Linked DNA regions of Homo sapiens: region 2 is linked to region 1. Evidence: fine-mapped expression QTL. Tissue or cell type: whole blood. Region 1 holds a variant in brackets; the other region holds the start of a gene. All regions are shown on one strand. Distances are between the middles of the regions.

Region 1 (10,454 bases):
TTATATATATTCTATATAATATATAAAATACTAGGGTGTATATATATTACATGGTATATATATATTACATGATATATATATATCCACACCATGGAATACTACTCAGCCATACAAAGGAACAAAATAATGGCATTCGGAGCATCCTGGATCCTGGATGGAGTTGGAGACCATTATTCTAGGTGAAATAACTCAAGAATGGAAAACCAAACATTGTATGTTCTATCTTATGAGGGAGAGCTTAAGCTATGAAGACTCAAAGAATAATATAATGGACTTTGGGGACCCGAGGGGAATGGGAAAGTGTGGGCAAGGGATAAAAGGCTACACATTGGGTTCACCATACACTGCTCAGATGATTGGGTGCTCCAAAATCTCAGTAATTACCACTGAATAACTTATCCATGTAACCAAAACCCACCTGTTCCCCCAAAACTATTGAAATAAGTTAAAAATGTGCTGGGTGGGGAAATATGCATGGCGGCGAGGCGGGTAGGCACAAGGCAGACTCTGCGGGGCTGGCGTTGTGCGGGCAGAAGCTGGTGGTGCAGGGGAGCAGCCGGTTCCAGACCACCTCCACTGCAAGCAGTGACGATGACAGCCTCTTCATCTATGACTGCAGTGCTTGAAAACAAGTCACAAGAAAATAAAGGGGACGACGAGCCGCCCTTGGTTCAGGGGAGCGGTGCAATTGTCGGTCCACCTTCTCCAAGTCTGGCAGCTGTTTTCTTTAACCGATGGCAGTAAGTGTCTGATTCTTTTCTGTACATAACCATGGCAATGTCTGAGTGTCAGGACCATGACAAGGAGGTGTACGGACCTGACCTTCACAGCCTCCGAAGAGAAGGTCTTGGTGGCTGACAAGTCTGGAGGCGTCTCCTCTTCGGTGCTGGAGCCACACGGATGCGGCCGACTGGAGCTGCAGCACCTTTCTGTCCATGCTATTAGACGTGGCTGTGCATCCTGATGACCACTTCGTCCTCACTGCGGACCGGGACGAGAAGATCCAGGTCAGCAGGGCCGCCATGCCCCGCAGCATTGAGTCCTCCTGCCTCGGGCACACAGTTTGTGAACTACATCTCCATGTTGCCCACTCAGCCTGAGCTGCTTCCATCCTCCTCCGGGGCCTGCACCCTGAGGCTCTGGGAGTACAGAAGCGGCCGCCAACTTCACTTCTGTCACCTCCACAGTCTCCAAGAGTCCGCGGACCTCCAGGTCCCCCCAGAGGTTTGCCGCGTCCAGGATTGCGTTCTGGTGCCAGGAGAACCGGGTGGTGCTTCTGAGCACCTGCATTGCTGTGGGATACATCTTCCAGTTTCACGCCGGTAGACAGAAGCTGGTGTACAGGCAGCAGCTGTCATTCCAGCATCGAGTGTGGGATGTAGCTTTTGAGGAAACCCAGGGGCTGTCGGTGCTCCAGGACTGCCTGGAAGCCCCCCTCCCCTGGTGCTCTGCAGGCCTGTGGGTGGCCAGTGGCAGTCTGTTCCTGAAAGTGCCATGTTAAAGAAAGTCTCCAGTGTTCTTTGTGGGAACCGGGCCATGCTGGAAGGCTCTGCCTGCGTGAACCCCAGCTTTAGCAGTCTCTACAAGGCCAACTTTGACAACATAACCTTCTACCTGAAGAAGAAAGAGGAGAGACTGCAGCAGCAGCTGAAGAAGCAGCAGCGCAGTTGAGTCCCCCACCTGGGCCAATGGGCAGGCCAAGAAGATAAGGCCGGGGGAGTCAGCCTGGCGTTGCTGATCTTGGCTGTCGGTGGTGCCCCACACCCTCGAAACAGGAAAAGTAGTTTTCACTTGTTCCCCCTGCATCCTGGCATCTCCCTTCAAAAAGGAAAAGGTGGCCGGGCGTTTTGGCTCACGCCTGTAATCCCAGCACTTTGGGAGGCCGAGGCGGGCAGATCACGAGGTCAGGACATTGAGACCATCCTGGCTAACACGGTTAAACCCCGTCTCTACTTAAAAAAATACAAAAAATTAGCCGGGCGTGGTGGCGGGCGCCTGTAGTCAGTCCCAGCTGCTCAAGAGGCTGAGGCAGGAGAATGGCGTGAACCCGGGAGGCAGAGCTTGCAGCGAGCCGAGATCGCGCCACTGCACTCCAGCCTGGGTGACAGAGCCAGACTCCGTCTCAAAAAAAAAAAAAGGAAAAGGTGACATCAGGTGCGACCAGCTCAGCTCAGAGAACGGGACTGTCTCCTGGGCTCTAGAACATTCTGTGTTGCTGGGCACAGGCTCTTGCCTGGTGCCTGTGCTCCTTTCTGGTTGAAGGGAAGCCAGACGGGTGGAGTGGAAGCACTTTACCTTCACGTTGAAGGCAGCGTGTGAACCTGCAGTGGTGGCAGCTGTCAGTTTTCTGCTATTCTGGAGCCTGGCGCGCTTCCTCTAGGAGGATCTATCGCCGACGCTGTGGACGCTTTCCTGTTGTTCCCACCATCTCACGGTCCAGGTGATGCGCTGCCCCGCAGTAGCTGCTCGCCATACGAGGCTGTTGAAACTTAGTGTTCCATATTTTTGCATATCTACAACTATCTGATCTTTGACAAACCTGAGAAAAACAAGCAATGGGGGAAGGATTCCCTATTTAATAAAAGGTGCTGGGAAAACTGGCTAGCCATATGTAGAAAGCTGAAACTGGATCCCTTCCTTACACCTTATACAAAAATCAATTCAAGATGGATTAAAGACTTAAACGTTAGACCTAAAACCATAAAAACCCTAGAAGAAAACCTACGCTTTACCATTCAGGACATAGGCATGGGCAAGGACTTCATGTCTAAAAACACCAAAAGCAATGGCAACAAAAGCCAAAATTGACAAATGGGATCTCATTAAACTAAAGAGCTTCTGCACAGCAAAACAAACTACCATCAGAGTGAACAGGCAACCTACAAAATGGGAGAAAATTTTCGCAACCTACTCATCTGACAAAGGGCTAATATCCAGAATCGACAATGAACTCAAACAAATTTACAAGAAAAAAACAAACAACCCCATCAAAAAGTGGGCAAAGAACATGAACAGACACTTCTCAAAAGAAGACATTTATGCAGCCAAAAAACACATGAAAAAATGCTCACCATCACTGGCCGTCAGAGAAATGCAAATCAAAACCACAATGAGATACCATCTCACACCAGTTAGAATGGCAATCATTAAAATGTCAGGAAACAACAGGTGCTGGAGAGGATGTGGAGAAATAGGAACACTTTTACACTGTTGATGGGACTGTAAACTAGTTCAACCATTGTGCAAGTCAGTGTGGCAATTCCTCAGGGATCTAGAACTAGAAATACCATTTGACCCAGCCATCCCATTACTGGGTATATACCCAAAGACTATAAATCATGCTGCTATAAAGACACATGCACAAGTATGTTTATTGTGGCATTATTCACAATAGCAAAGACTTGGAACCAACCCAAATGTCCAACAATGATAGACTGGATTAAGAAAATGTGGCACATATACACCATGGAATACTATTCAGCCATAAAAAACGATGAGTTCATGTCCTTTGTAGGGACATGGATGAAACTGGAAATCATCATTCTCAGTAAACTATCGCAAGAACAAAAAACCAAACACCTCATATTCTCACTCATAGGTGGGAATTGAACAATGAGAACACATGGACACAGGAAGGGGAACATCACACTCTGGGGCCTGTTGTGGGGTGGGGGGAGGGGGGAGGGATAGCATTAGGAGATATACCTAATGCTAGATAACGAGTTAGTGGGTGCAGCGCACCAGCATGGCACATGTATACATATGTAACTAACCTGCACATTGTGCACATGTACCCTAAAACTTAAAGTATAATAATAATAATAATAATAATAATAAAGAAACTTAGAACGAACGCTTCAGCCTGCCCCAGCCCCAGCACTGCACCTTGTACTCAGGAGGTGCCCGTGGCGAGTGGTTCCCACGTGGGAAGTGCCCAAACGCGTTTCAGTGTCGCAGGGAGCTCTGTCAGGTGGCGCTTGCACAGACGGTGAACTTGATTCAGGAACTGTGAGGACATGGGTCCGGCTAGAAACCCGGTTTTACAGGAAGGTGATCGAAGACGTCGTGCGTGTTTGTTATTTTGATTTGACCTTTGCGCACACTGCAGAGCAGCAGGGATGTCACTGTATTTCAATCACCGATCCATAAGGATTAACTTTTGCAACTCCCTGGAAACGTTTAGCAGCAACACGTGAAACTAGTCTCAAAATACATCAAGCAAAACCTTTGGGTGCGTGCTCTGTTTATGAGTGAGGTGATCACTGCTTGATTTGGGAAGAGGCTTCTAGGTACATGGGGTAATTCGTTCAGGACGGCTTCCACCTGCTCTTCAGTGATTAAATCTCAACAAGGGAACAGATGTGCACGCTGGTGATGATTTTGGTGTGGGTTTTCGCTGGGGACTTAGAATCCTTAGTTTTCCTTTTAACAGTGATCTGGAAACAGTGCTGTCTGCAAAGCTGAGGCCCACTCCCCTGTGCTGGGGACCAGGGGTTTCAGAACAGAGGGGCCATGCCAGACCATTGTCCTCCTGTACCAGCAGCCTCACCTCCTTCACAATTCTGGGGAATCTGGAGCGGGGCATGCTCTTGTTAATAGTCTGCTTTGAAAATTTTGGTTTTAGGAGAAGTTAAGGTTGGTCTTGTCGGTATCTTCACGTAAGATAGGGTTGGCAAACTGGCATGTGGGCTGAATCCTGCCCACTGCCTGATATATGGCCTGCGAATGTTTTTTACATTTTAAAAATCGTTGAAAACAAGTTAAAAATATATTTCATGACATGAAAATCGTGAAATTCAAATTTCAATGTCTGTGAATAAACTTTTATTGACACAGTAAAAAAAAAAAAAGAAATAAGAGAGATAAATATAAAACCACACACACACTTTTGTTGAGCTGATGTATTTGAAAGTAGGTTTGCATACTTCATGACATTTTGCCCCAGAATATCATAGCATGTATTTCTTTCTTTTTTTTTTTCTTTTGAGGTGGAGTCTCGCTCTGTCACCAGGCTGGAGTGCAGTGGCGTGATCCTCTGACTCCATGGTTAAAGTGATTCTCCAGCCTCAGCCTCCCAAGTAGCTGGGATTAAGGCACATGCCACCACGCCCAGCTAATTTTTGTATTTTTAGTAGAGATGGGGTTTCACCATATTGGCCAGGATGGTCTCAATATCCTGACTTCGTAATCCGCCCACCTCAGCCTCCCAAAATTCTGTGATTACAGGCATGAGCCACCGCGCCCTG[A/C]CATAGCATGTATTTCTTAAGGAAATGCACACATGCCTGCATAACCATAATCACACCCAAGAAATTTAACTTTCATCCAATAATCATATCATCTAATACCCAGCTCAGATTGAAATTTCCCTCAGCTGATCACAGAAAAATGTGTTTTCAAGCTTCTGAATGTGTGCCAACCTGAAAATGAGAAATATATTAATTTTTTCTCAGTAATTTACTATGAGCTTTTCCAAATATACACTAAAGTTGAGAGAACTTCCTCATTGTAAATTTAATTCAAATTTCTCTGCCATAAACATGAGGTTTATATGTTTAAGGGCATGGGTGGGTTTTGGTGTGTATGAATCTTTGTGTTTCTCAATTTTTGAGTGTTTTGTAAATTGAGGAGTTTAGTTCTTTATCTATGACATATGTTGCAATTATATTACTCCCAGTTTGTCACTTGTCTTTTGACTTTGCTTGTGATGCTTTTTTTTTTAAACAAATATTCTTTACATTTTATTTTATTTATATTTTTAGAGTTAGGGTCTTTCTCTGTTGCCCAGACTGAAGTGCAGTGGTACAATCATGGCTCCCTGCAGCTTTGACCTCCTAGGCTCAAGTGATCCTCCCACCTCAGCTTTCCAGCTCGCTGGGACTACAGAGATGCACCACCATATCCAAATAATTGTGTGTGTGTGTGTGTGTGTGTGTGTGTGTGTGTGTGTGTGTAGACAGCCTCCCCTTGTTGCCCAGACTGGTCTCAAACTTCTGGGCTCAAGAGATCCTCCTGTCTCAGCCTCCCAACGTACTGGAACCACGCCTGACCAGTCCTTTTTATTGATGTCAAAATTATTGCTTTTTTTCTGCTATTATATCTGGATGATGAACATGGTTTAAAATTTTTCCCACCACAAGATTACAAACAAATTCACTTATGTTTTCTTCAAGTACTTATGTGGCTCATTCTTTCTATATAAGTTTTTCCTGGAGTATAATGTATGTTAAGGATCCAAAGCTATCTGTTTTCAAGTGACTGTTCAGTTGTCCTAACACCATTTATTAATAAGTCTGTCTGTAATTTGAGATGCCACCTTATTTATATGAAAATTTTCTTTTTAGTTGGTTCTATTTCTGAACTTTCCATTATGTTCCAGATCTGTCTATCCATTCATACCACACTGTTTTAATTATACAAAATATTTATTGTGCATTGATATTTAATAGGGTTCTCTCTCTTCACTGACCTTTTTTACTGGTTTTCCTATTTAAGCATATATGTTTGTTTATCCACATGAACTTTGGAATCAATTTCTGTAGTCCCAGGAAAACTACATATTGCAATTTTATTAGGGTGGTATTAAATTAGAGATAATTTATTTCATCATAATGTCAAGTTATCTTATCCAAGACCAAGAAATATTTCCATTTGTCTTTTAGGAATGTTTTAAACTTTTCCTCATATGGATTTTACACATTACCTCTTAAGTTTACTTTCAAGTATTTTATATTTTTGTCATTATTGCAAATTGAATTTTTTCTTCTTTTATCTTCTAACTAGCTATCATTTACATACACACACATTTACACTCACACACACGTGTGATTTTTGTACACTCATTTTGTAGCCTGCTAACTTACTGAGGTCTTTTGTTCATTTAGAGTCATCATTTATTCTATTGGGTTTTCCAGATATACTGTCATATCAACTGCAAATGGAGAGAGTTTAACTACTTTTCCAAGTCTTATGCCCCAATTTTTTAACTAGTATACTAATGTCTCCAATATGATGTTAAATAGTAATGGAGATGGCAGACATTTTTACCTTGTTTCTTGCCTTAGTGGGAATGTTTCCAGTATTCTAGTATTACTCCATTATAATATTCTCTTTCTCTTTCTCTCTCTCTCCCTCCCTCTCTCCTGTGTCTCTGTCTCTCATACATATATAAAATCATGTTAAAGGAAAACCCATTAATGTCTATTTTATCTAATACTTCTACTGGAAATGTATATTAAATTTTATAAAGGGACTTTTTGGCATATCTGATTTGTTATACATTTCTCACCTGAAAATTTCTAAGAACTTTACTAATATTAGTACTCTACATTCTATAACAATAGTTTCTTCAGTTGATACAATGTATGTATGTTTTCTCAGCTCCAGAGAACCAATAACATTGAATATCATATTTTAGAACCATGAAAAAACTTGATAAACAGTCTGACTTTCTTCGCCAAAACTGTCTTATAATAGTATCTTTCAACGATTAAGTACTTTTCACATGGCCATTTATGTACTCATCAAAGAGTCTTGAAAGGTAGTTTCTGACATTAATATTTTTAAGATACAAAAATGCAGACTTATAGAAGTAACATTACTTAAGCAAAGCAAAACAGCTTGCATATGGAGGAGAAAGACCTTGACTCCAGGACTGGCTCTAAAATGCTTTCTGTCACATCGTCCTTGAGATCTGGTCAATGCTAATCCTCTGCCAGCAGAGGGCGCAATACTTCTATTAAAGCCCAGTCAAAGCGCTTGAGTGGGAGCAGCTAGTTCCCCATTGCAGCCCTGTTGGCTGATTGCAAAACCTCAAAAGTCAGAATTTGTCTGTACCCTTTTAGTTGCAAATGACAGAACTGAAACTAGTCCTGCCCAAACCAGGTGGGAGGGTTGGACTGAAAATGGAGTAGGGTGTTTCCCCAGAGAGAACATAGAGTATAGCCCCAAAATGACAAAAAGCCTCTTCTGCTAGAAATATAAGATATCAGGGAACATAATACTCCAATGAAGAGACTTCTCTTCCCACTCCACCCTTCAGACCTGGCCTGGCCAACAGGCCACCCCCTAGGTTTCTATCTGAACCTTCAAAGATCCAATTAAGAACACTTAAATTCAGCTTTTGCGTATTTTATCCACAAAGGCCCAAGTCATTATTCTGTATTTTGCCACAGGGATATTATTTCATACGGATTTGTTCTCCAAAACTTCAGCCTGGCATTTCCACTGACTCTGTAGCTCTGTGAAACCAAGCTGTAGGTGTGAGTATATTCTGTTGACATAGCAGATATGAGCTCTGAGGTTGGGTTAAGTGTAAAGAAATTTCTCACCCTTTTACTAACATTGTGAATAAATTCTAGTCTCTTGTGTGAAAAGACTGTAAAAGGAGTTCACCTGGGGATGAGAACATTTCTAAGATTATGTTTTTATTCTTTCCCTCTGAAAACTCGCATAGGCAGAAAGAATGAGCCAGAGGCCTTGGGGAGTTGAGCAAAGTAACCAAAATTCACATCCAAAATTTCATTTCATTTAAAAATAAACCTATCACATGGAAATTTTGAAATTCATCTCCTGGATTATGTGCTTTAGTACACACACACACACACACACACACACACACACACACACACACAGTATCCACACCTCAAAATGGAAAGTAAAATGTACCCAAGTATGGTGTATAATTTTATCTCAATATGACTTACTTTTGGATTCTACTTTCCTGACCCTGCCCAAAGTACAATGTATTTTTGATTCAAAAGTCAACACTCAAGATTAATGTCCATAGATAACAATAATAGTTGAGTGCTTACTATACAGAAGCTATCCTGCCAACAACCTTTGGAGGAATTCCCTTCCTTGGAATTGCTGTTGACATAGCAGATATGAGCTCTGCTTGCTGTTGACCAGCAGGCTTGCTGTTGGCATTAAACAGATACATGAGAGGTCACGCGCTGATCTGGTTTGGCTCTGTATCCCCACCTGAATCTCATCTTGTAGCTCCCATAATTCCCACATGTTGTCGGAGGGACACAGTGACAGATGATTGAATTATGGGGGCAGGTCTTTCCCATGCTGTTCTCATAATAGTGAACAGGCCTTACGAGAGCTGATAGTTTTTAAAATGGGAGTTGCCCTGCACAAGCTCTCTTTTTATCTGCCGCCATCCACATAAGATGTGACTTGCTCCTCCTTGCCTTCCACCAGGTCTGTGAGGCCTCCCCAACCATGTGGAACTATAAGTCCATTACATGCATTTTCCTGTATAAATTACCCAGTCTAGGGTATGTCTTTATCAGCAGCATGAGAACAGACTAATACACATACCCTGGCAATTCAGGCCCCCCTGCACTGCCCTCAAGAAACCCGACTGGAGCCCCCAACCCATGAGGGTTGTGTAGGCTCAGAGGCTGCTCTTAGTAAGTCATGTGGCTTGTCAGCTTTGTTTCTTCTTAAGTAATGGGAGCTTATTTTTCCAGACCTTTATTCCATAAATGCTTGGGGATTTAGAGTTAAATTTTAGCAAGTTTTAACATTTTGATTGTATGTAATTCCTCCTTTAGTCTTTTGTCACCTCTCTATTTTTGTTCTCTCTGTTTATCCTTCAGCTTATTTTAGGTTTGTCGTGATTTTACCTTTCTAAATCTTATGGGTCTAGCATTTTTACTTTTCACGTGGTCTATTCTTGACTTTACACTGTATATTTTATCCTTTTAATCTTTTTCTAAATTTTACCATAATTTTCTACCTTAATCTGTTACTTTAATTTTTTAGTTATAGCTCTTTTGATCTTTTTTATTTTTAACCAAATCTATTACTTTAATTTCTGAATAATTCTTGCCTCAATCTTTTTACTTATAGTTCCTTTTTTATTCTTTTAACTTAAATTTTTGTTCACGTTTTTCTTTTTAAATGTGTTCTCTTTTGCCCAGAGTACCTTTAAAAATATTTTATTCTTTTTTTTTTTTTAACTCTCAAGCTATAGCGCTGGGCAGAGTTTATGATCTAGAATTAACACAGCTGTGGTGAATGTACACACATGGAACATTGGATACTTTTTCCTTCTAGCCATCTCTGCATTTATCTTTCTGACTGCTTAGAAAATCATTCATCATATTCAGTGTTTTTCTCCAAAAATAAGTAACTGGGCTGTGTCAGAGACTGAGGAATGACAACCCCTTCCCAGGGCCCGAAGCTTCCTACTTATGCAGGCAGCAATTTGAAATACTAGAATGAATGTCTCTTTGTAAAGAATTACATCTTCTAAAAACCTGTGGTCTCCGATGTATAACTCATCTATAGAAGGGGTGGAGATTGGGAAGAAATTACCTCTTCTTCCTCCAATTTTCTCCATTGCTTTAAACTGTGAATTCCACTGCTTGAACCAGAAACCCATGAGACATCCACGCAAGTTCTGTGCATTCTACCTCATCAATTTCACTTCTCACCTGGACTAC
Region 2 (10,454 bases), 79 kb after region 1:
AGGCATCTCTTTTAACTTCCCCTTTCCCTCAAATTTCTCTTTTCACATACAATGTATGGCTGGAATTCAAAGGAAAATTACACTGTGATCAAAACTGCATATCTAAAGCAGAACTGTCAGTTACTATTATCTATTCTTGCACACCCATGGGACATGTTATTTTAAGTTGATGCTGCATTCAATTAAGCCCTTATGTTGGCTACAACATAAATCACATCATCTAGTTTTCCAATCTGATCCATCAAATCACTGACATAACATCCCAAACAAATGGTTGTGTTGTGCCTATACAAACTCACTGAAGGCAAAGGAACTAGTCTATTCAGTAGCATATTTTTTACATAAGTGAACTCTTCCAGGTTGGAAAATTTATCAGTGAAAACATATTAAATAAGTAATACAGAAATGGCACAGAGAGTGCTTAACAGCATGACTTCTGGAGCCTTAGATTTAAATTCAGATCTCAATTTTGCCTCTTCCAGGCTCTGTAACCTTAGGTAACTTATTTAATTTTTCCAAGCATGAGTCTCCTCACCTGTAAAATGAAGGTAACAAAGCACCTGTTTCACATTGTGGTGAAGATTAAATGAGATAATATACATAAAGCATTCACCACAGTGGCCAGCATGTAGTATACATTTGAAAAATGGCGACCATAGAAACAGGTAAAAGTACGGTTTTGGGGGCGGAGGTTGCAGTGAGCCGAGATCGTACCATTGCACTCCAGCCTGGGCAACAAGAGCAAAACTCCATCTCAAAAAAAAAAAAAAAAAAGAGTACGGTTTTGTAGGCAACACTGTGGAGTCGCTCTGGCATAATGTTCCCCTGGGTACCCCTCATCATGGTGACAGTGCTTTGGAAAAGAATGTCACTGCAGTACGAGCCCACGAGGGCCACATAGAAAGTGGTTAGGCTCTGCGTGATACTGGGGCCACACTGCTGGGTTGCAAACCAGCTCTGCCACTTATTAACTGTGTGACTTTGGACAAGGCCATTTGCCTCTCTGTACTTCAATCTCCTTATCTGTTAAGTAAGGATAATAATTGTCCCCATTTTGTTGAGTTGTCTTAAGTATGCTGTATAAATGCATTAAGGCATGAAATGCTTGGAACTGTTCCTGCTTCAGGGTAAACACCACATGCGTTAGCTGTTACAGTGATGATGAATCAGTAGGCACAAATCGCTTCAGATTATTTCATGCTGCCTAGAAGACAAGGTAGATCCAGGAAAGAACTCCTGGGCCAGGACCCTGACTCTCGGGCTCTCTTCCACTTCTACCACAGCTTTCTGCAGCCCTTTCCTTTCCTGTCCCTGCTGCTTGCCCTTCCCTTTCCCATCACCCTGATTCCTATGCTTTCTCCCAGCCTCAAAGGACATCCAAATCCCTCAGCCACTTTCTGAGTCAGCGCTGCTGCGCCAAGTGCTTGTGAGGTTGGTTGTCCTGGAAACAACAGCTTGCTCCATAAACCTCTAGGAATTAGGCTGGTTTGAGACATGACTTGGAGGAGTCTAGGTTATGCAGAGCATATAATTTGCTCTTCTCTCATTTTTTCCAGTTATGATGATGAACATATCTAATTCAGTAGTAGGTATTCGAGTACCTTCCAAACATGTTTATTGGCCAGAAAGAAACCCCCTAAACAGAGAGGAAAGGAGGCTGAGGTTTTTAAACTTAATCTTGCCCACAAAACAATTTGTTCGTGCCTTGCTCTGGCTCTAGTGAGTTCTTTTGCAGGCCAGGGCAAGCCTGCCTTTCAGAATGCTGCCTGGGATCAATGAGATGGTAGGCTTTGCTGTTAGGCAGGCCGGGATTTGAATCCCAGGTCATCCTCTTGCCACATGTTTCACTGTGGACGAATCACTTATTCTCTGTGAACCTCAGTTTTCTTATCTGTAAGATGAGGATCACATAGGGTGGTTAGGATTAAATGAAGTCATGTTCGTATAGCAGCTTGCTGCTCCATGGTTGGCTAGAAGTGCTCTTTTTTAAAACAAAAAAGTAAGGTGAAAGACTCTGAGGCAAAGAGACATGGGTGTTACTTGGAATGAAAAAGCTGGAAAATGACAGAATCTTGTATTTTCCCTCCCCCTCTTAACCACTGTCTTCATTTGGAGATCTTATTCAGGAGGCAAAAGAGGAAACCTGGATTGTGAAATGTCAACAGTCATCTTGCACAGAAGAAAAGCAGAAACGTTTTACAGTTAACACTATTGACCCCAAGATTTCTGACCTGACAAAATTCCTGCACCAGCATTTTCTAATGCTATATTTTTTCCACCCAAAACAACTTATCTGCAATAAAATTATTTCATAAAACAAGACACAGGACAAAGATGTTCTCTGTTACTACCCAGGTATCTTGAACTGCATAAGAGAAAAAGGTGAATGGAGGAAGATTCACTATATTATTTTTCATGCTTTAATATCAAAAACCATAGCCAAGGCTTCTAAGAGCCTTTTCAAAGATTTTTATGGCCCTTCCTTCATAATTAATTTGGCAACCAACCCAGGAACCAGTACATAGCCCCATTAACATCTAGGGGAGGCCCCACTATCTACTGAAGCATATATTGATGCTGATACAAATAATCAGTGTCTTATGCAGCTTATGTACACCAATTATATGTCAGATTCTTGACATATACAGTTTTTAACCCACACGTGAGGTAACTGAAGGAAACTTAATGTCTAAAGTAGTTAAGAACTTTAATACCTTCTCAGGAAACTCTGTCTTTAGGTTTAGTTCTGCAGCTGAAAAAGGGAATATTTCTGGACCAAACATTTCTTTAAAATATCAAATGAGACGCTGGAAGCTATGTGAGAGTGGAGGGTTGGAGAAGGGAGAGGATCAGAAAAAATAACTATTGGATACTAGGCATAGTACTTAGGTAACAAAATGATCTGTACAACAAACGCCTGTCACAGGAGTTTACCTATATAACAAGCCTGTACCTATACTCCTGAACCTAAAATTAAAGTTTTAGAAGAATAAAAAAAAAAAAGAGAATCTTAATGCATTATATCAGAGTGTTCAAAAGGTCCCAGAGAAAAATGCAGTAATTATGGAAGATGTAACTTGTAAACATGAAAATTATGGAAGATATAAATTGTAAAACTATCAATACAAAATTTCACTATTTAATTCCAGGCACATTTTCTAGATTGGCTTTTACAATCTGAGAGAACTACTCTCACTAATTAAAAACTATTTATTAATTTAAATCCACATGCTTGACAACCCTGACTCTATCATCCCCAATTTTTAGTGAGACAGCTTCACTTATTAGAAATTTAGTCTTCATATTTTTGTAATTTAGGGAGATTAAAATATGAGCATACAAACTTTATAACAGCAATTTTCATTGCAAGATGTTTTTAATTGTTTAAAAAAACAAACAAAAACTTGCAGAAATGTTCCTATTCACTTGCTCTTCTCAGGATACTAGCACAAGTGATCAGGAAAGGAATAAGTCAATATTAATTATTACCAGGTCTCGCCAATTATTATTGGTGCCTATTGCAAGTAATCTTTTACACTTCTATGTATAAGTGTGTCTTTTCCAAAGGATGTTTCGAAGCACAGCTGGCTACAGAGATTAGCAGCTGAGGGCCCACTTATTCTCCAGTACCAACTCATAGCTCTCACCATCACAAATACACTACAAATCCTAACTTGGAATAAATCTGCTTTAAGAAAATGCTGGAGTAATGAACAAAGTTCAGTGCCATGAATCAGAAACCTAAGCATCAGAGAAGGAGTGGCTGGTCACAACTGTCATAGCCATGTGACTTGGGGCAATCACCGAGCCTTCTGGGTCTGTCTCCTCTTCTGCAAATGAAGGAATTAGGCCAGATGACCTAGGGTCCCTCCAGCCTGAAGTCAAAATGGAAGCAGGCAGCAATGTGTGCTATTTAACCCCCCTTACAGGTAGAACATTGTAGGTTAAAACGTGAAACAAATGAGTAGCCTAAAACAGACTCACATTCACTGTTCATTCAACTAAAAAGCTAAGCACCTGAAGGAAGGCACTACGTTCAGCTCATTTCTGAAACAATCCACTCACTAAGGTTAGTGTGAGCATATCTGTGTATATAGGTGTTGCCCACAGGACACCAAGTCCTATGTGTGAATTCACATCCCGGGGAGCTTTCACAACCACACAGCACACACTCAGCATCCGAAGAAAGACAAACAGCACTAAGAAAATTCAATTTTCATGATGCACACCAGGGAGGCTAAGCCTTTTTCAGTACCCTAATCTTTAAAATGGTGCATCTACCACCTCGATGCCACATTATGCAAATTTACTAAGAATTGTGAGTGAAGAGATTTCAGCCCAATTAAAAAAAGATAAGGTTTTTTTTAAACGTGTCAATTCCAAGAAGATGGCCCAAGAAATAAGCCGTAATTACTCTATCATTATATCAACTCTTTAATCACTTTTTTCCCCTTGCCTCCCAAAAAAAGAACTGAGGGGAAGTGGAATTTAAATAAAAAATGAATAGTCCCTCCAAGAAACCTCCATAGAAGAGGAGTATATCTTCTGACAGAACACATCTGTGTGCCTCTTAAAAAGGATATTCTAAATCTGGAGGGAGTTAGCTTAGATCCCCACCTTCCAGGCCCTGCCATCTGGAATTCTCAGACCCGTAATATCAAACTGTAAGGAAGCCGGGGCTGGATGAGTATCCCCACTCCCCTAACCCCACTCCAACATTCTATGTGCTACCACGCTCCCCTATTTCAACCCAACTGGTTGAACAGGAAACATTCCTAAGATGAGCAGGTAGCCGGTGGAGCTGAACCCAAGTCTCCCCAGCCCATGTCCACTGACACCCTGGTAAGTGGCACCTTCGCTCACCTTCTTCACAAGGTAGCCCTCTCTGATCCGCTTTGGTTCCATGCTGGCTGGACAGGCAGATGCAAAGGTCACTCTCAGGCAACTCCTCTCAGCAGCTGGGCCTCCTCTGCATGCTGAGGTGGCTGTGGGCCGCCTTTTCTACAGCAGGTCGCTTTCACAATTTCCCTTCTGCTGGCGGTCGCATGATCACATCCTCTTCCCCTCACTGGGTTGGAAGATCAGAATAAGGAACTGCAGAGTAAACCACCCATTCCTTGCTAATGCTGGAGACTTATTAAAACCACAGTTGGGTTGAATATTTACCTAAGGGAAATTCTTACTACCATACAGAAAATCCCTCTTTTAAAGAGAAAAAGAAGTGATGAAAGGAAGAGGAAGATGAACAAGAAAAACTTGTTGGTGAAAATTGTCCTGAGTAAGGATTATTCTTGAGATCCTGGAAATGCCCAATAAAAATGCCAAGAAATTCAGAACCATCTGGTTAGCATAACAAAGTTAACTACTAAATGAATGCCTACTTCTCTCTATGCCAAGCCCTGTATCAAGTGTTTCTCAGCCTACTTATTTTAAACTAAATTAGTCTGCACATCGGCCAGGCATGGTAGCTCACGCCTGTACTCCCAGCACTTTGGGAGGCCAAGGCAGATGGATCACCTGGGGTCAGGAGTTCAAGACCAGCCTGGCCAACATGGTGAAACCTTGTCTCTACTAAAAATACAAAAATTAGCCGGGCATGGTGGCGTGTGCCTGTAGTCCCAGCTACTCGGGAGGCTGAGGCAGCAGAATCACTTGAACCTGGGAGGCGGAGGTTGCAGTGAGCCGAGATTGGTCCACTGCACTCCAGCCTGGGCGACAGAGAAAGACTTCATCTCAAAACAAACAACAACAAAAATGAGTCCACACATCAAACCCATAGGGAAAGTATATTATTTTCCTTATCTTAGAGTAAGGAAACTCAGGCTCAGAGAAGAAAAGTTGTCTCAAGTTGACGCTGCAGGTCACAGGGGAAAGCAGAAGAACCAGGGAGGGATGTGCTAGGGTGCCACTGCCTCACATCAGGCATGAGAACAGGTGTTCCACGTTGAGTGCTGATCTCACAGTCAGCCTGTAAAAAGAAGTCCATCATCAAACAGGTTTTTGAGAAACTTTACAAAATAATCCCAGGTTGGCAACTCCTCTAAATGATGAACAAATTAAAGACCTTCGCCCCGCCAAAGTACTACAGTAAAGAATCCTATAATGGTGTTTTCCAAACTTACTTCGCCATAGCATTCTTTTTTGAACAATTTATGTTAACTTTTTTTGTCATAAATTGAATTAGATCTCCCAAAAAAGAAGTCCTAACCCTTAGCACTTCAGAATGCATCCTTATTTGGAAATAGGGTCATTGTAGATATAATTAGTTAAGATGAGGTCATACTGAAACAAGTGGGCCCTTAATCCAATGTGACTGGTGTCCTTATAAGAAAAGGGCACACAGAAAACAGCCATGTGACAACAGAGTGATGCATTTACAAGCCAAGGAACGCCAAGGATGGCCAGCAACCCCCAGAAGCTGGAAGAGGCACGCAACAATTCTCTCCTAGAGTTGCTATAGAGAACATGGTGCTGACGACACCTTGATTTCAGACTTACGGCCTCCAGAACTGTAAGACAATAAATTTCCATTGTTTTAAGCCACCAGTTTGTGGTACTTTGTTATGGCAGCCCCAGGAAACCAATATAATCCTGAAAAACGAATATTCCATAGAATAAACTTAGAGACCCGTTAATCTGACCATGTGAAAATGAGCAAGTTTGTTATTACTTTGTGCCTCAGTTTTCTCATCTGTAATACGGGGATAATAACACCTATCCAATGAGGTCATTCTGAAGATTAAATGAGATAGACATGGAAGTATTTAGAAGAGTGTCTGAAACATAACTAGTATCCATAAATATTAGTTGTTCTTCATCTTCAAGGCAAATCTCCGTTATCCTAGAGCTGATCCTTTTCAATGATAAGTTCAACAGAGATGATGAAAGCAATCGTAGGACTAGATTTTCCTCATTACACCCGTCAGTGTTCTTTCACTGCAATCAACAGATAACAACTCTGGCTAATAGAGGCAAATAGGAATTTACTGGAAGAGAATGGAGTGGCCCACAGACTGCAGGAAAAATGAAGACTGGGGTCTTTGAAAGGACAGGAATCAGGGCAGTTGTGGGGTTCCAGGAAGCAAGACACCAAGATGAAAGAATGCCAGTGGTTTTCAGACTCTGCAGTAGTCTCCAGGGATCAGGCCTCTGATTGGCCTAACTTGGCCTAGTGCTTCTCTCTCCGGTATCTGAAGGGGGAACATGTGAACCGACAGCCCCAGCAGGACCATGCTCAATGGGAGAAGGGAGGTGTCCCCTAAAGTAAAATCAAGATGCTATTAACAATAGATGAGCGATGGCTCCGAGAAAGGCAAAACTGACAGACGTCCACGAGGGCATCTGAGGAGCCAGGAAAGTTAGGGGAAAGAAGAAGTTCTGTTCTTGGGGTTTTCTGAGAGCTTCCTGATTCCCTCTCCTCTTCCCTCCAGCTGTGTTTCTAGCTAACAGTCACTGCCCCTGTATTTCTCACTTTTCATTTTATGCTAATATCCATTACTTAAAATCGTTGATGGTTTCTTTTCAGTTTCTCATTGCACCAAAATTAATTAGAAATTGTTATAAAGTGTTGGGGGCTGAGAGTAGAGGGATCAACGTTTGATGTCACCTGAGCAAAACAGGAACAAATAAAAGGGTAATTTTCTGTATCTGCACTCAAACAAGTATTTTGCTATGTCTGTATAGTCAATGGAAACCACTCTTAGATTTACCAAGTCTGATTTCATAGTTAAATATATCTCCTTTTGTTTAACTGACCAAGTGACTTCTAATTTGGAATGTCTTCACTGTTTGTCCTAGCATGATCAGAAGGCTTTAAAGAACCCTCACTCAGAAACCTCATATTATTTTTGGATGCCTCCGGTGTAAAAGCACCCCCTGCGTTCCGAATAATTCATTTCAAGAAACATGGTATTAAGTGTTTAGTATGTACCAGGCGCCTGAATAGGTGCAGGGGTAAAAATGTCTTGACACCAAGGAACCTCCGGCATTTGTGAATCTGCTGAACATCGCCATTGATGGACTGGATGCTGCCGCCTTTGCCCCTCCCCCTCCTGCCACGTGTCATCGCGCCTACTTAGCGACACCTAGTGGTCAGTAAAGAGAACTATCTGAATCAATGACGCCTTTCAGGACTTCTCTCAACAGAGTTTGACCAAGTTTTCTTCTGCTGTGTCAGATCCCTCTCCCAGATCAGATCATTAGAACCTCCTCCAGTATCTTATGTATATGTGTCTAGAATGACTTTTTTTTGAGACAGAGTCTTGCTCTGTCGCCCAGGCTGGAGTGCAATGGCCTGATCTTGGCTCACTGCAACCTCCACCTCCCAGGTTCAAGTGATCCTCCCACCTCAGCCTCCCAAGTAGCTGGGATTACAGGGACACGCCACCACGCCCGGCTATTTTTGTATTTTTAGTAGAGACAAGGTTTCACCATGCTGGCCAGGCTGGTCTTGAACTCCTGACCTCCGGTGATCTGCCTGCCTTGGCCTCCCAAAGTTCTGGGATTACAGGTGTAAGCCACCGCACCCAGCCTAGAATGACTTTTTAACATCTCTTTCTGTACACATTTGATCAATAACCTTGGAAACATTATTCTTGTAGCACATTTTATTGCTGTAAGGGCAAGTTAAGACTTCTGAATAAGCAAAAATGATTACTGAGCATCTCCAATGGAAAACTATGCATTCTTTACAGCACACTTTTCTAAGTTATTTGTTTCTATGGAATCTGTGTTTTTTTCTTGTCTTGGAGTTATTCTAGAGCTCGGTAGATTGTGGATAAATACAAATAATTCTTGTCTATAAACATGCAAATAAATTCTGCCTGATGGAAGTTCAGTAGACTCCACCTTACCCCACACCCGCACTCCACCCCGCCTCCCATGGAAAAAGTCAATTTTGTGTCCATTGGTAAATGAATTTCAACGTTGCTTTACTCTATATAAATTGGTCTTTGACCTTGCCTTTGAACTGGTGGTGACCTCTGGCTAGTTTCCCCTTTAATTCATGAGTTAAATAAAATTTTGACATGTTTTCATTCTATTATATGTAAGAGTCATCGTTTTATCTTTTTCAAAGTTATTCTTTAGCATTGGTAATTCAAAAGAGACATTAAATTTAGCTGAGAAATATCAGACTACCTCTAGTGCTAAATATAAATTAAGTAAAAGGTGTCAAAACCTGTGAGAAGAGTCTGAGATGTTACCCTACTTGTAAGTTAACAGGTCAGCCTGCCTGTTTCAGGGATGCTCACAGAAGACTCAAGACTTCTGGAGTTTTGAGTGAGACAAAGGACTTTGCTACTCACAGCACAGTAAACAGAATTAGCTCCATATTGGTCTTGATGCTTTTTGGCCCTAAGTCTACCAAGGACAAAGTGGAGCGGCCTAGATGGATGCTGCACATACTGAGGGTTCGCATCACAATTGAGGACCCAGAGCTTAGGGAACATGAATCTTTTGTAATGGGCTGCAAGCAAACCAGCCCAAACTTTGTCTCAGAGGCAGACCTTATTTTTATTTTACTGGACAGTAAGTGAATCTGCCCTTTGCTCTGGAAGGAGACAACCTCTACCTTCAAAGCTGTTGTTCACTGTACAAGCATCCATAAAATAGAGTACCTCTGCTTGCAAGTTGTACCTATACACAAAAAACCCATGGAGAACTTTCTCCCAACAAAAAGAAAGCATTAAGTTGTCTAATTCACTTAAACCTATTAGAGAATATCTAGTTGGTGCCCAATGGGCTTCAGTTCAAAAGAGGGAACTGAGCCCACATACTGAGTAATCCCCTTTCAACAGATACACAAATTCATATGGAAATGATTTAAGAATATATAAAAGTGTGAACATATACCCACTTGCTCAAAAGAAAGCACTTTCACACATATATTTCCTTGCTGTGTTAGTGGAGAAGGCCTAGAAGCGACAACACCCTGGTAGTGTCAAGCACATCTAGCTCCCAGATCTTGATTACTAATACGATTCTCCAATAAAAGGAATGAGACGTCCTTGGAGAAATAGATGGCTCTAAGATTTCAGCAGGAAATGCAAAAGATGACCCTGAAGCATCCTGCGTACCAGAAAGTAAGAAAGTGCTAAAAATTTTAACTAAAAACACAAAAAACTAAAACCATGATGGTGATCAAAGGGACCAAAGAGCCAACTGACTGAGCACCTAGTGGCCAAAGCTAGAAAATTTAGAGCAAGAAAATAAAGAAAATAGTATTGGATTATAACCAAAGTCTAAAAATAAATAAATTAATGATTGAGTAAATAAATAAGAGAGAATACACAGATCTATTCCAAGATTCCAAGAATTCCAAATAAGTTATCTAGACTCTCCACCCTTAAAGAGGTGGAGCATGAATCCTCACTCCTTAACTATAGGCTGTGTATAGTGACTTTTTAAAAAGTACGGTACAGAAAGGAGAAAAAAGGAGTAACTTTATGGTGGAG

What was found. PIP is the estimated chance that this variant, and not a neighbour inherited with it, causes the effect.
Region 2: PLEK starts here. The variant in region 1 is fine-mapped to the expression of PLEK in whole blood (TOPMed, PIP above 0.99).

The regions. Positions count from the first base shown.
Region 1 is chr2:68,439,189-68,449,642 of GRCh38, reverse strand. It overlaps the pseudogene WDR4P2. Among named protein-coding and RNA genes, the nearest start is that of FBXO48, 23 kb to the left of the region's middle. RefSeq lists a silencer at 7,603-7,842 and enhancers at 8,033-8,082, 8,173-8,222. The variant A/C (reference allele first, on the strand shown) is at 5,247.
Region 2 is chr2:68,359,803-68,370,256 of GRCh38, reverse strand. It overlaps PLEK (pleckstrin), which reads right to left and starts at 4,975. Exons shown (of 9, transcript NM_002664.3): 1 at 4,864-4,975. The coding sequence starts at 4,905. It overlaps LOC101927723 (a long non-coding RNA gene), which reads left to right and starts at 3,853. Exons shown (of 2, transcript NR_187652.1): 1 at 3,853-4,842; 2 at 7,798-9,040. RefSeq lists enhancers at 4,936-5,015, 7,947-8,016.